Linked DNA regions of Homo sapiens: all the other regions are reported to be linked to region 3. Evidence: microRNA targets listed by miRTarBase, many of them from high-throughput screens and not tested one by one. Region 3 holds a microRNA gene; each other region holds the end of a gene's coding sequence.

Region 1 (3,177 bases), not on the chromosome of region 3:
AAGTCTTGTTCCTGTCCCACTCCCACCCCACCCCTAATGAAACTTAAAAGGTATTCCCATTTCAATTATGGCCTGTATCATTCTTGGCAGTTTGGGAAGAGAACTTTTGGCTTCCATTGGTAACTCAACATAAATGTTGCATAGAATTTATATATTTCAAAATTGGCCTAACTGTAGAAAAGGCAAAATGGAAGCATTTCCGATAGAGCCCTAAATGAGTACAAAGTCACTTTGTAAAAGGTGAGTGACACTAAAGTAAAAATATGACCAAAATAAGAAATGTGCATATTAGACAACCCTGCTTCCCGAAACTTTAGGAAGGACACGGAGTTGTGAGTCACACAAGGGCTATGCTACTTGAAGTCAATGTTCACCAATCAGGCAGCACTAGGTACAGAAGTCTTGGTTCTGAACCTGGACCCAGGAGGGAAGTCTGTGGGAAAGGGGAGAAGAGAATGACAAGAGAGGATGTCATATTAAAAAAAGGTTTCAAACAATATTGGCAGGTGTCTACTCACAAGGTGATTGGAAAACTGCCCACGAGGAGAAGTCAACTTTACCTCCTCCCAAATTCACAGTACGCGAGTGTAGTAGGGTCATTGCTGGGAGATAAATTGTCTGAGGAGGGCCACCCTTCAGGTTTACCAGAAATCTTAGGGTTTGGCCCCCCTGGTCACAGGCTAAATATATGGTTTAAAAGTTTTATTAAAAAGAAAAACAGAACAAGACACACTCACACCCAGATGACTAATGAAGGCTAAGCAGAATAGTCTGAGTTTGCTGAGACTAAAGCAGGGATAGTGTTGAAAAGTTTTCCTTTCACTAGTGGGACACATTCCCCTTTTCTTTTCAAAGAGGAAGAACATGGTGTCATCCAATGTGAAGTGAGCAGTTTCGGGTCAAACTCTTATGGTAAGAAACTAAAAAAAGATGCCAAGAGACAAACCTTCAGAAATAGAAGAAATGCAAAAGATGGAATAAAAACCCTGATCATTAAAACAGAGACACCTTCACTGGTGTCCAATAAGGATTCTCTTTACAAAACAGAAACAAACAACTCAAAAATTTACCATACTTTGTAATGAAAATACCAGTATGTTGAAGACACAGCAGACTGGGTTTCTATTAGAACAAGTATCAGCAAGGTCATGTAGACTTGTAGAAACTTTTGCCTTCTCCTGCACCAGACAGATCATTGTCCAGTTGGGTTGTCAGCTGGAGACCGAAAAGAACCTAAAAAATGGATCTTTTTTTTTTTCTTTTTCCCATGGTCACGCATCCACACAAATGAGTCTTTTGGATGAGAAAAGTCACAGCAACTTGAGTTCTCCTAATGAACAGATGACTTTTTAGCCCTGTTTGTTTCAATGGGGAAAACAATGACAAAAAAAACAAACCCCAGGCAGGCACGACACTTATGTAAAATGAACACAGTTAGTACAAAACCAGTAAGGCATCACTTTGGGAAGGTCAGCACCGAAGAGGTCAGGCAAGGCTCGTCCAGACGGGGCTTCTGGGAGGGAGTGACCCTCACCCTTATTGAGCTGCGTCATGTTGGTTCTGAGGAAAGTGCAAGTCTTTTGCAGGGTGACCGCATCACCCCACCGGAAGCTGGGGCGGGGACGCTGGAGGTGTTGGTGTGTGTTCTAAACCCTCAAGGACGAGAAGGGAAGGCAAGGTCCATGGCTCACCCACATGTCGAGGACCAGGTCCTCATCCATTTTAAAGGACACAGATACCCCCAGCCCTAGCAGGAGGAGGCGAGTGTGTAGGACTGTGAGGATGGACAACTAAAAACCAAAACTGAGCAGGACCAAACCAAAACTCAACTCCTGCGGTTCTTACTTTCACCAAAGGATTGATTCTGACCAAGAGGGGAAGGGGGAAAAAAAAATCTTCAAAAATCAATGCATCAGAAAGGAAGAAACTCAACCTCATTTTCAAAAGGTAACCTGTTCTCCAAAGTAGAACAAGTCTCACTATACACAGTGTTTGCAGAAAAAAAAAAAAAAAAACCTGATTCATTCATATATCAGAAGGAAAGAGACACATGCTGTTCTGCACTGACAGCCACATCCACTCGCTCACACTCTCACTCCGTCACTCACTCTCACGGATATTAATCAGAGGCTGATGGACCTGAATGGGGTGGTTTGATTGGAACAGGCAAAATACCTCTCGGGTAAGGAAAGCACCATTTAAAAAACATGAAAGCACGGTTTATTTGCTCCTAAGGTTTCCCTGTGTCGTAGCTCTGTAGTGCGTTGAACGTGACCAAAGCAAGCACCCTGGTTAGCACCAGTTCTCCCTGTGGCCGGCTGTGTGGGAGGGTGGGTGGCACGGCTCTGAGACCCAGTCTGGAGGGTCTGTGCTGAGGGGAAGCCGTGCTTCTCTGTGTTTCCGACTTTGCTCCAGTCTCTTCTGTCTCTGGGAAGCTCATGGCAGGATGCTGTTTGGTTTCAGAGCTTCATGTGGGTTCTCTTTTTTTTTTTCTCTCTGTCTCTCTTTTCATTTCAACGGCGATGATCCTTTCCCGAGAAGTATCTTCAGTGTCTTAGGGAGGTCACAGCAACAAGGCAAAACAATAATTAAAGTACAACAGAAGGTAGTGCAGTTCTCGCTGTGGAAGGAAGCGGTCCGCAGGCAGCTGGCCCGGGATGCCTGCACCCAGGTCGAGGCTGAAGGACGGGGGGTCTCGGTGTTCCCGCAGCTCTAAGGCTGTGGCTGGGGGCTGGCTCAGGAAGTCATCTTCAGGGTGATGTGGGGGATGCAGGTGGAATGCGGTGAGGAGAAGAGGAGGGCGCTGGGCTCCGGGCCCCTGTCACAGAGTGGACTCCAAAGAGGAGTCCAAGATGTCATCGTGATGGCTGTTGCTGTTGGAGTCGCTGTCATAGCTCTGGGGGCTGGAGTAGTTGGCTGCCTCCTGCAGCCTCATCAGCATGTTCATCTAGGGGAAGAGTGGAGAAGCATGAGCTGCTTTCTGTCTAGTTGGCCGCCCACCCTGGACTCCTAAAAGGTCATGCCACCTCCTCCAGACTCACCTGGGATAACAGCCCACAGTGGAGGCAGTGGACAAGAACATGGACTTTGGGCCAGGCTTCTAGGGTTCAAATCCCAGCTTCACCAATTACTAGCTGCATGACTTTGAACACATTACTTAACCTCTTTATACTTGTT
Region 2 (3,169 bases), not on the chromosome of region 3:
AGAGAAAGAAAAAAAAAGATAAGTAGAGACATAACAAATAGAGGGACCAGGAAACATTCAGCATTAAATATGTAACCTCATTAAATAGTCAACATTGAAATTTACATGGGCAAGGCACCACGAACATGACATTGAGAAGGTATATCTCAATATGCAAGACATTGCAAGATGGGAGGTGGGGGAGGTTAAGGGAATGTGCTGGCTGACATGGTCAGTGGTCTGTGTGCTGCCCTTCAGTGCATAATCAGGCAAGGAGTTATGTGCACATGTTCTATGCTAAGATGAACCAAACACCAACCTTCAAGGCAAGGCGCGGCCATGCCACAGGACACCAAGAGCAGACTGCTGGCCTGCAGCAGCATGCCCACTCCATGGCCATTCCTAGGAGCAGAGCCCTGCACTCTGGCTAGAGGAGGCAAGACTCTTTGTGGGCTAACCAGCCTTCTTTCCTGTGAGTCCTATATTGCTGGCCAGGGGATAAGGGACATTCTCCAAATAGAGCCTCACATATTACAATCACTTAAAAAAGTAATAAGAGCACAATAAAATACATTATTTTCCTTTCCTGATCCTCTTTGTTATACATGAATCACATGAAAAGCTGTTAAAAATGTTAAAAGTTTAGAAATTTCCAAGGCCACTAATGTGCTATGTAAGTAATACTGCACAGTCAGTCTTGGCTTTAAGGAAACTCTGCACTGGTAGATGAGGGGCCTCAGGGCTCACTCACTCACTAGGCACAGAGAACATGTCTGTCAACCCTGCCACAGGTTGCTTTTCTAGAGGCCTGGCCTCTACTTCCAGCATGCGTGTGCACGCACACATGGGCACACAAGTGTACACACACATTGTTCGAGTGACTCTTGGGATTTCAAGGTCAAAGTAAACACATACTCACAGTTTTGAATAAAACAAGCACAGGTGAACATGTGTATACATACACACACACACACACACACACACACACACACACACACACACACAACCCCAGTGGAAGGAACGCTCATCTCTTAGCGCAAATATGTGCCAAGGGAAGAAGGGGGAGGGTTTCTGTAGACTCGCTTCAGGTGAAGTTGCAACATAAACACTGTAATATACAGCTAAAAAAATACATACAAAAATTGCACACATATCCATAGAAGGGGAGCACAGGCTGCACACATGGTGAACAGCTCTCAATCACCCACCTCAGCAATCAGAATTCCTGTGAGCTGTCCTCCAGAGCCATTTTACAGAGTCAGAAGGAGCAATGAGCCACTTAAACACTGGGAGGCAGTCTCTCTAGAAGAGGTCAACCTTCTGAGGAGGTCAGCAGTCTCATCAGTGGCCTTCTTCCTCTCCCCTGCCTACGGCCATCCCAACAGCCCACCTCACTGTGCCCTCTAAAGGAGATCTTAGAGCTCCACTGACAGCTATTTCATTCAGGGCAATTGTTTACAGCATTTGGTAAACTAGTTAACACTGGCTACTGATAGAAGGGAGCTGGCCAATTACTGCTCGGGGAAAACTGCAAATGCTGACAGTTCTGACAGTAATCAAAGGGTACTTTAAACTCTGTTTCCTGATGGCCCCTAGAGAATTGCACATGCAAGAAAATCATCTCCTCATGCCCTGCCAGCTATTTATAAGCTCTGAACTGCACTCCACCCTGCTGAGGCATTGGTGACACCACCTTGGGTCAGCTCTGTAATGGGCCACAAGTGGCTGATAAATCCAAACTTCACTGGCAAGTGGGGACAGAGTGGAGAATCAGGCAGTGGCAGCAGAGGGGAGACTATTAGGGCTGTCCTCCATGCAGTGCACATACTTACAGATAATGGCAATGAAAATGGGTCTATGACCCAAGGATGGGATCTCTCCTTTTCTTTCTACTCTCTCCTGGAACAAAAGATATAGTCCCTGGTAACCAAAACTGGGCTGATGCTAAGGATGGCAGTCCTGCCTAGTAAGTCAGTTGTTGACACCTTAAAGGAAGAGTCTGTTGTCAGAGTCTACTGGGTCGTGGTAGAGACTGGTTAAGTCTGTCTACTGCTAGTGAGAATAAATACTTGGTGCTAAAAAGATAGGTGATATCCAGAATTATGGAGGAAATGGACACAGCTCACTGGCTGAGTTCATACCAAAGAAGCTGTCCCTTCAAGAATATGGATTTTCATTTTTACCTGCATTTATGGGACTATTAGGATAGAAGGTGTTTCAAGGGAAGGCAACTGCAAGTTTGTGCAGCTGAATTTCTGTAAAGTTAAGACAGACTCAGCTTCTCATTCAATCTGGGGCAGTGGATAACCTTTCTGAATAGACCCACTTGTTCACGGACAGGGATAGAGGTTTGCCTTTCTTCTTTCCTTGAATTTGGAGTGAGCACTAGGGAGGGGAAGTGCATGGGTGACATGAAGAAGGTGAAGATGTAGTAAAAGCATCATCCAGGTACACATTAACGGTGCTGCAGAATTTTCACAATACAACTGAGGGAGTCTGTAGTGGCAAAAGCCAAATACTGAGCACAAAGCCAGTCCTCAAGGCTGATTCCACCTTCCCTGTCCAGGGACTTCTCAGCAAACTTGATCATGAGCAGTGTTCGCTTGATGTCTAGCCAGTTTTGGAGCAGGGTGTTCCTCTGTACTAGGCTAGGGCAGGCGGTGAAAGTCTGGAAGAGATCTTCGCGGGGGCCCCAGAGCAGACACTGGAGGATGCCTTTGGCGTCTGAAATGAGGATCCGCTCAGAAGGGTTGGGATTCAGGAGGCAGCTGGCCAGCTGCTGCAGACCCCGGGAGTAGGGGGAGCGGAATGGGATGCGAGGCAGGTCTGCTCGTGTGTATTCCCTCTCCTTCAGCTCTGGGTTCTCATCAAAGGGGTTGGGTAGGTGCAGCATCTCATAGATGAGGATGCCTGTCTGGAACTCATCACACTTTTTATACTGGGTAGCTGTTATGATCTCTGGGGCAAGGCGAGACTGGTCCCGGAGGATCTCGGGGTCCACCAGATGGCTCTTCTGCTTGGCCTGAGAGAAGTTGCTCACTATAAGCCTAGTGGGATAAGATGAGGTGGGGCTGGGCTCTGCAGGCCCAAAGCCTTGGGCAGTCCCCCCAGGCTGGTAGTGGACAAGTAGCAGGTTCTCTAGGCGTAGATCGCAGTGAGTGACATGGTAGGGTTTGAGGTGCTCAAGACC
Region 3 (3,177 bases):
GGATACAGAGTCCAGGTAAGGTTTCCTGGAGGAGGGGTAGAGGAGAAGGAGGTAACAGGGGTGCTTGTTGGGCTTGGAAAGTGGAGGGAAATTCATGAAGGTGGAGGAGGAGTGAGATGGAGAGGGCAACAGACCCCAGGGTGGTGAGCACAAGGGTTTATGTGAGGACTAATCATAGCAATTTTTAGGGCAGGGAGGTCTCTTGGTGCCCTGAGAACAGAGCCCTCTGAAAAGTTAAATAAAGCATAGATTAATAATTATTAGTTAATTAAGAATCTCTCAGGGTGGGGCCCAGGAATCTGCATTCTTAAATTCCCCAGGGCATTCTAATGAGCAGTCAGTGTTAGGAACCCCAACTGTCTTAGGGCTTGGAGAAGGAGAGCTCAGCCCATGTTAGGCTCCTTTGCCCCAAAAGCTTGGAGGGTAAGAAGATAGGTGGGACAAGGTTCCATCTGGTGGTGGAACCCCTCAGTGGGCCCAGCTGAGGAGTTTGTTCTTCATCCTGTGTCCTGGTAGGGTGTTCTGGAACAGGTGGAGGCCTACCAGGCTGAGGCTCGTGAGGCCCTGGCCTCACTGCCCTCCAGTCCAGGGCTACTGCAGTCCCTGTTGGAGAGGGGGCGGCAGCTGGGGGTGGAGGTGCCTGAGGCCCAGCAGCTCCAGCGGCAGGTGGAACAGGCGCGATGGCTGGATGAGGTGAAACGCACACTGGCCCCCTCAGCCCGAAGGGGCACCTTGGCTGTCATGCGAGGACTGTTGGTCGCGGGTGCCAGTGTAGCCCCTAGCCCTGCTGTGGATAAAGCCCAGGCCGAGCTGCAGGAACTGCTGACCATTGCTGAACGCTGGGAGGAGAAAGCCCACCTCTGCCTGGAGGCCAGGTAGGTCCAGCTGCTGCTTCCCTTCCCTGCCCTATTCCAAACATCAAAGTTGAGTGGAGACCCAGAAGAGGATGCCCATGGGTGGCCTTAGGTATCACGCTCCTGTGTTACTGTATTGACTCTCCCCTCTTTTGTTGTCTATCTTGTCGTTTTTTTAAAAAACAACTCTGTATACTTAAAGGCAAAGAGAGGCTGATGGAGAAGCAGAAATGGACAGATAGAGATTATCTAGAAGACTAGCCCTACAGGCTAATGTGCGCATACCCAGAAGCACAAGTGACAGGCAGATGGGCAGATGTTGGTAGAAAGACCCCACACAGGGCAGTTGACAAACTGCAGCAACAGATTACACAATACAGGTTGTATATGTAGGCATTGCTAGCAGGCCAGCAGACTGGCAGACAAACAGAGGTGCAAGAGCTGTGGCAGAAGGGATGAAGTTGGGTGCATGCAGTCTTGGGGAAGCAGGGACTGGCAGCTACCCTTAGGTGGAATACAAGCAAGTAGGCCCAAGTGACAGCAGGAATAACAGACACCCAAGGGGCCCATGCAGATATATCTGGTGGTCAGGCTGGGCTTCTGGTCAGGCAGACCACATCAGACTGAGCGTTCTTTTTTTCCTTACCTTTAGGCAGAAGCATCCACCAGCCACACTTGAGGCCATAATCCGTGAAGCGGAAAACATCCCTGTTCACCTGCCCAACATCCAGGCTCTCAAGGAGGCTCTTGCTAAGGCCCGGGCCTGGATTGCTGATGTTGATGAGATCCAAGTGAGGACCCTGCCACTCCCACCCCAGGCCTTCAGTCCAGCTGGGAAGAGATGGCATATACACTGGGATGTGCTGGGTTGCTGGGATGGGTTGGGTTGGCTGGAGAGAGGAAGGGGGCATGGCATGTAGTCAGGAGGCAAGATGTGCCTGATGAGCAGGGTGAGAGGAAGAGTGTGAGGCTGGCCTGAAGGAAGAGAGGGCACTGGTTAGGATGAGATTGGTGGGCCAGGGAAGCAGGTGGTATGGGACTGAGCAGGGCAGGGGCATGGAGGAGAGGAGAAGAGGCAAACCACAACAGAAGGCTGACTAGATATTTGGGGCTGAGCCAGTCAGTAGATGCCGGTGTTGTGGGAGAGAGCCAAGTGGTTGTTCCTTAGGATGACACCTATTTTTTTAATCCCTCAAGACTGAGCCCAGTTCATCTTTCCAGCTCAGGGCCAGGCACAGAGTAAGCATCAATAGCATTGGCAAGTTGAACTGAGCTGTCTCTCGCCCTTGGCCTTAGAATGGTGACCACTACCCCTGCCTGGATGACTTGGAGGGCCTAGTAGCTGTGGGCCGGGACCTACCTGTGGGGCTGGAGGAGCTGAGACAGCTAGAGCTACAGGTACTGACAGCGCACTCCTGGAGGGAGAAGGCCTCCAAGACCTTCCTCAAGAAAAATTCTTGCTACACGCTGCTGGAGGTGAGGCCTGGGACCTTGACCTACAGCGTCTCTTAACGCCTGCCCTGGCTTCTGTGAGATGGCTCATGAGATAACATGGGTTTTGTAGGGGCACCAGGGAGGGAAGGAGGCGGGGGATGTAAGGGAAGCCCAGTCATTCCCTCTCTTGTCTGCCTGCCCCAGGTTCTCTGCCCATGTGCAGATGCCGGCTCAGACAGCACCAAGCGCAGCCGGTGGATGGAGAAGGAGCTGGGGTTGTACAAATCTGACACAGAGCTGCTGGGGCTGTCTGCGCAGGACCTCAGGGACCCAGGCTCTGTGGTAAGGAGCTTCGACACAGATGGGGAGAAGGGCTTGGTGATGATAGAGTGTCTGAGCTGGGTGGCCATGAGCAGACCGCTTGTCCCCTGAGCCTCAGTTCTCCTGGTTTGGGAGTGGGGGTGTTAAGGGGGGGCCCAGAGAAGGGAAGGGGTAGGCTGCTGACCCACTTTGCTCCTGTCCTGGGTATGGCAGATCGTGGCCTTCAAGGAGGGGGAACAGAAGGAGAAGGAGGGTATCCTGCAGCTGCGTCGCACCAATTCGGCCAAGCCCAGTCCACTGGCATCATCGAGCACGGCCTCCTCTACAACCTCTATCTGTGTGTGTGGGCAGGTGCTGGCTGGGGCGGGAGCTCTGCAGTGTGACCTGTGTCAGGACTGGTTCCATGGGCGGTGTGTGTCAGTGCCTCGCCTCCTCAGCTCTCCGAGGCCCAATCCCACCTCATCCCCACTGCTGGCCTGGTGGGAATGGGACACCAAATTCCTGTGTCCACTGTGTATGCGCTCAAGGCGCCCGCGCCTGGAGACCATCCTGGCACTGCTGGTAGCCC
Region 4 (3,164 bases), not on the chromosome of region 3:
ATTCAGAAATGGCACATCAAGGGCCGGCCTGCCCTTCATCCTGCAGGGGTACTTGGGCATGTGGAGGCCCCTTTCTCCCTGGTGTTGCAACTGGAGAGGAGTCGGTTCCTGAAGAACAGATGGGAGAGTGCTGGGGCCAGGTACCCTGGGAGAGAGGAGGGAAATGAAATCCGGCACAGGGGCTGCGGGGATAGGGGCAGTCAGGAGGCGGCAGTGCGGTGCAAGGGCCCCCCCACGCGGCCAGCTGTGGAACTTCCACCACGACTCCCTGTCCTCTCCTGAGCCCGCCCATCACGTGTAGAAGCTCAGATGCTGGGCGCCAGGAGGGCGGCTTCCTGGCTCTGGGCACCGTGGTTCTGTCCTAACGAGGGGCGCTCTCTGGGTGTAAAAACAGATGTTCTGGCTGGGCGCGGTGGCTCACGCCTGTAATCCCAGCACTTTGGGAGGCTGAGGTGGGTAGACTGCCTGAGCTCAGGAGTTCGAGACCAGCCTGGGCAACATGGTGAAACCCTGTCTCTACTAAAATACAAAAATTAGACAGGCATGCTGGCCGGCGCCTGTAGTCGCAGCTACTCGGGAGGCTTAGGCACGAGAATTGCCTGAACCCGGGAGGTGGAGGTTGTAGTGAGCCAAGATCTCGCCACTGGGCTCCAGCCTGGGCGACAGAGACTCTGTCTCAAAAAAAAAAAAAAGAGATGCTCTGTCTGGCCTGGGTTGTTGTTGGTGGCCAGAGTAAGTGGTGTGAACAAGAGCCCCGGCTTGGGAACATGTCTCAGACTGGCATTGAAAATGAAAGCCAGGATTCCTCTAAATCCACCGCCTTGAAGTGTAAACAGTCCAGAGAGAAACCGACTTTGCCATGCTCCCTCACCCAAGAAAGCCCTCTCTCAAAATGCGCTAGAAAGTTTATATCTGCCTGATCCAGAGAGCAAGTGGAAGGTGCGGAGAAGCCAGACAGAAAAATCGACCTTAACCAAGAGTTCCATCTCCCAGCCTTAAGTTGTGGGATACTGAACAAACAAAACTACACATGTCCTGGGAATTTTGCTTTGTGGTGTTTTTAAAAAGAATGTCAGAGCCCTCCTTGGGGGCTTCAGAAAAGCAGGTATTGCTGGCCCATGGCTTCTCAAGATCACAGTCCCCAACCTATGCTCACTGAGAAGATACCCGCTTACTTCCCCAGTCTCAGGCAGAGAGTTCGTGGTGAAGTGATAAGTAGCAGGAGAGGCCAGCAGACAGGAAGCCACGGGGTCACCAAGGGGCAGGGAGAGAAGGCCTGGCTGCGGCCCCGTCACCCGCCAAGCGAGCCCCTGAAAAGGCTGTGGGCAGCCCCCCTGCCAGTGAGGCCTAGCTCCTGTCTGGTGGGAGCAGAGCCGCCTGGATGGCCCAGTGTCACTCGATGCTCCATCTCTCTCCCCGCTAATGAGCTGTCACCTCAGTGGGTGATTTAACTGGATCTTTCCTGGTAAAACAAGAGGGGCTATTGAGAGCGGAAACACCCATCCGGGAGTCCCCTGAGATGGAAATGACCCTCTTAAATTGGGGATCTCTGGAATGTCCTGATTATCTGCACCCAGTGTGCTTCCTGGAGGAAGGCTAGCAGGACAGAGGAGCAGCGGAGGGCAGGGGTCCTCCCTGAGGAAGTTGGGGGAATGAGACCCCACCTCCCCACGCAGAGCAAGTCATCAAATGAGAAATGGAGCTCCAAACAGCACTGAGATTTCTGGGGCTGGGCGCAGTAGCTCACACCTGTAATCCCAGCACTCTGGGAGGCTGAGATGGGAGGATCGCTTGAGCCCAGGAGTTTGAGACCAGCCTGGGCAACATAGCAAGAGCTCATCTCTGCAAATATTTTTTTTAATTAAAAAAGAAAAAAGATTTCTGGAACCCTTTCCACAGTCTAGTCTTTGCCACTGTATTCCTGTTATCAGCCCTCATTCTCTATAAATGGAGTCTGAAGAACAGCAAAGACACAGGGAGGAGCCTGGAATTCCTACTGCACAGCCAGGATGGAGGAGACAGGGATGGCAAGCGGGAGCAGGTGGAGGCAGTGAAGAGGAGGGCCAGAGGCTAGATGTGCAGAGGTTCTAGAAGGAGGGGCAGCTGGGGAAGGAGGGGCTTGACCCCCTCAGGGTCTCAAGACAGTCCCCAATGCCCCTGCTTTGCACGGGGCAATGTACTCCCCTGGGCGCCTCTGCACCCTTCTGTCTACCAATCATGCTCTGAATGTTCCCCGGGAGCCAGTTCAAGGATCACCTCCCCCAGGAAACCTTCCCTGATTAACCTCAGCCCACCACGTCACGTCTCCTCTTGTGAACGCCGGAGTTTGGGCGCCATCCCGTGTTGTGCTGGTTGATATGAATGTGTAACTGCTGGAGGTCTTTTCTTAAGACTTCTCTCCTGGCCTGAATTTGAAGCTTCTCAGGAGCAGACTCCATTTCTTCCTTGTTTCTGCATCTATCCACCAATACACAGAGCTGCCGGTCAAAGGCATCGGGACAAGGCTTGTCCTGCCCTCTCTGGGGCCTGACTGTGGGATAGAAGGTTCTGGAGAGCCAGGGCACGCTGGGCAGGTGGCGGGGCCGAGAAGGGAGGGAAGACACGGGCGAAGGAAAGCACAGGAGCGAAGCGGGCAAGGGGCACAGGCGCCCTCATCCCAGGAAGGCGTCGTAGTCCATGTACCACACCAGCTGGCCGGAGTGCGGCAGGACACCCGAGATGGGCCACTTCTTGGGCTCATGGCCCACCCGGCTCACCAGCGTGGTGATCTCACGCTTCATCCTGCCCATGACCAGGACTGCCACCTTCTTGGCGCGGTTGATGAGAGGCAGGCTAAGGCTCATGCGGCGGTGTGGCTGGGAGGGGCTCGTGGTCAGCACGACCAGCTGCTCGCCATCCAGGCCAGTGGGTGACTGTGGGAAGAGGGAGGCTGTGTGCCCGTCGGCACCCATGCCCAGCAGCACCAGGTCGAAGCTGCTGTTGGCCACCAGGGCTGAGATCTCCCTGGCATAGATCTGGGCGCCCTGGTCCTCCTCGGCGCAGAGCCGCTGCTGCAGGTGCACAGGCATGGGGTGGATGTTGTAGTAGGGGATCCGGACGTGCTGCAGCAGGTGGGCCTGCAGGCCCTGGAAGTTGGACTCCGGGTCTGAGAGTGGGACGCAGCG

What was found. Region 3 holds the annotated microRNA hsa-miR-6895-3p (UGUCUCUCGCCCUUGGCCUUAG, at 2,129-2,150, shown strand). A microRNA usually pairs through its seed, bases 2 to 8, with sites in the 3' UTR of a target mRNA and lowers its output. Matches are read on the target gene's strand: a 7mer-m8 pairs with bases 2 to 8, a 7mer-A1 pairs with bases 2 to 7 and ends in A, and an 8mer does both.
Region 1: the mRNA of NAV2 is a reported target of hsa-miR-6895-3p. Seed matches in the 3' UTR shown: 8mer at 2,498-2,505 and 7mer-A1 at 2,423-2,429.
Region 2: the mRNA of PEAK1 is a reported target of hsa-miR-6895-3p. Seed matches in the 3' UTR shown: 7mer-m8 at 1,276-1,282.
Region 4: the mRNA of H6PD is a reported target of hsa-miR-6895-3p. Seed matches in the 3' UTR shown: 7mer-A1 at 512-518.

Annotation. Positions count from the first base shown.
Region 1 is chr11:20,117,903-20,121,079 of GRCh38, reverse strand. It overlaps NAV2 (neuron navigator 2), which reads right to left. Exons shown (of 38, transcript NM_145117.5): 38 at 1-2,947. The coding sequence ends at 2,822. All of the region lies in intron 2 of LOC107984418 (a long non-coding RNA gene), which reads left to right. Among named protein-coding and RNA genes, the nearest start is that of DBX1, 41 kb to the left of the region's middle.
Region 2 is chr15:77,111,722-77,114,890 of GRCh38, forward strand. It overlaps PEAK1 (pseudopodium enriched atypical kinase 1), which reads right to left. Exons shown (of 10, transcript NM_001385026.1): 10 at 1-3,169. The coding sequence ends at 2,435. Among named protein-coding and RNA genes, the nearest start is that of TSPAN3, 42 kb to the left of the region's middle. RefSeq lists a silencer at 2,528-2,716.
Region 3 is chrX:53,194,384-53,197,560 of GRCh38, reverse strand. It overlaps MIR6895 (microRNA 6895), which reads left to right and starts at 2,073; the gene lies at 2,073-2,150. KDM5C (lysine demethylase 5C) reads left to right here. Exons shown (of 26, transcript NM_004187.5): 19 at 517-875; 20 at 1,507-1,645; 21 at 2,151-2,330; 22 at 2,493-2,630; 23 at 2,823-3,177.
Region 4 is chr1:9,264,357-9,267,520 of GRCh38, reverse strand. H6PD (hexose-6-phosphate dehydrogenase/glucose 1-dehydrogenase) reads right to left here. Exons shown (of 5, transcript NM_004285.4): 5 at 1-3,164. The coding sequence ends at 2,652. Among named protein-coding and RNA genes, the nearest start is that of SPSB1, 27 kb to the left of the region's middle.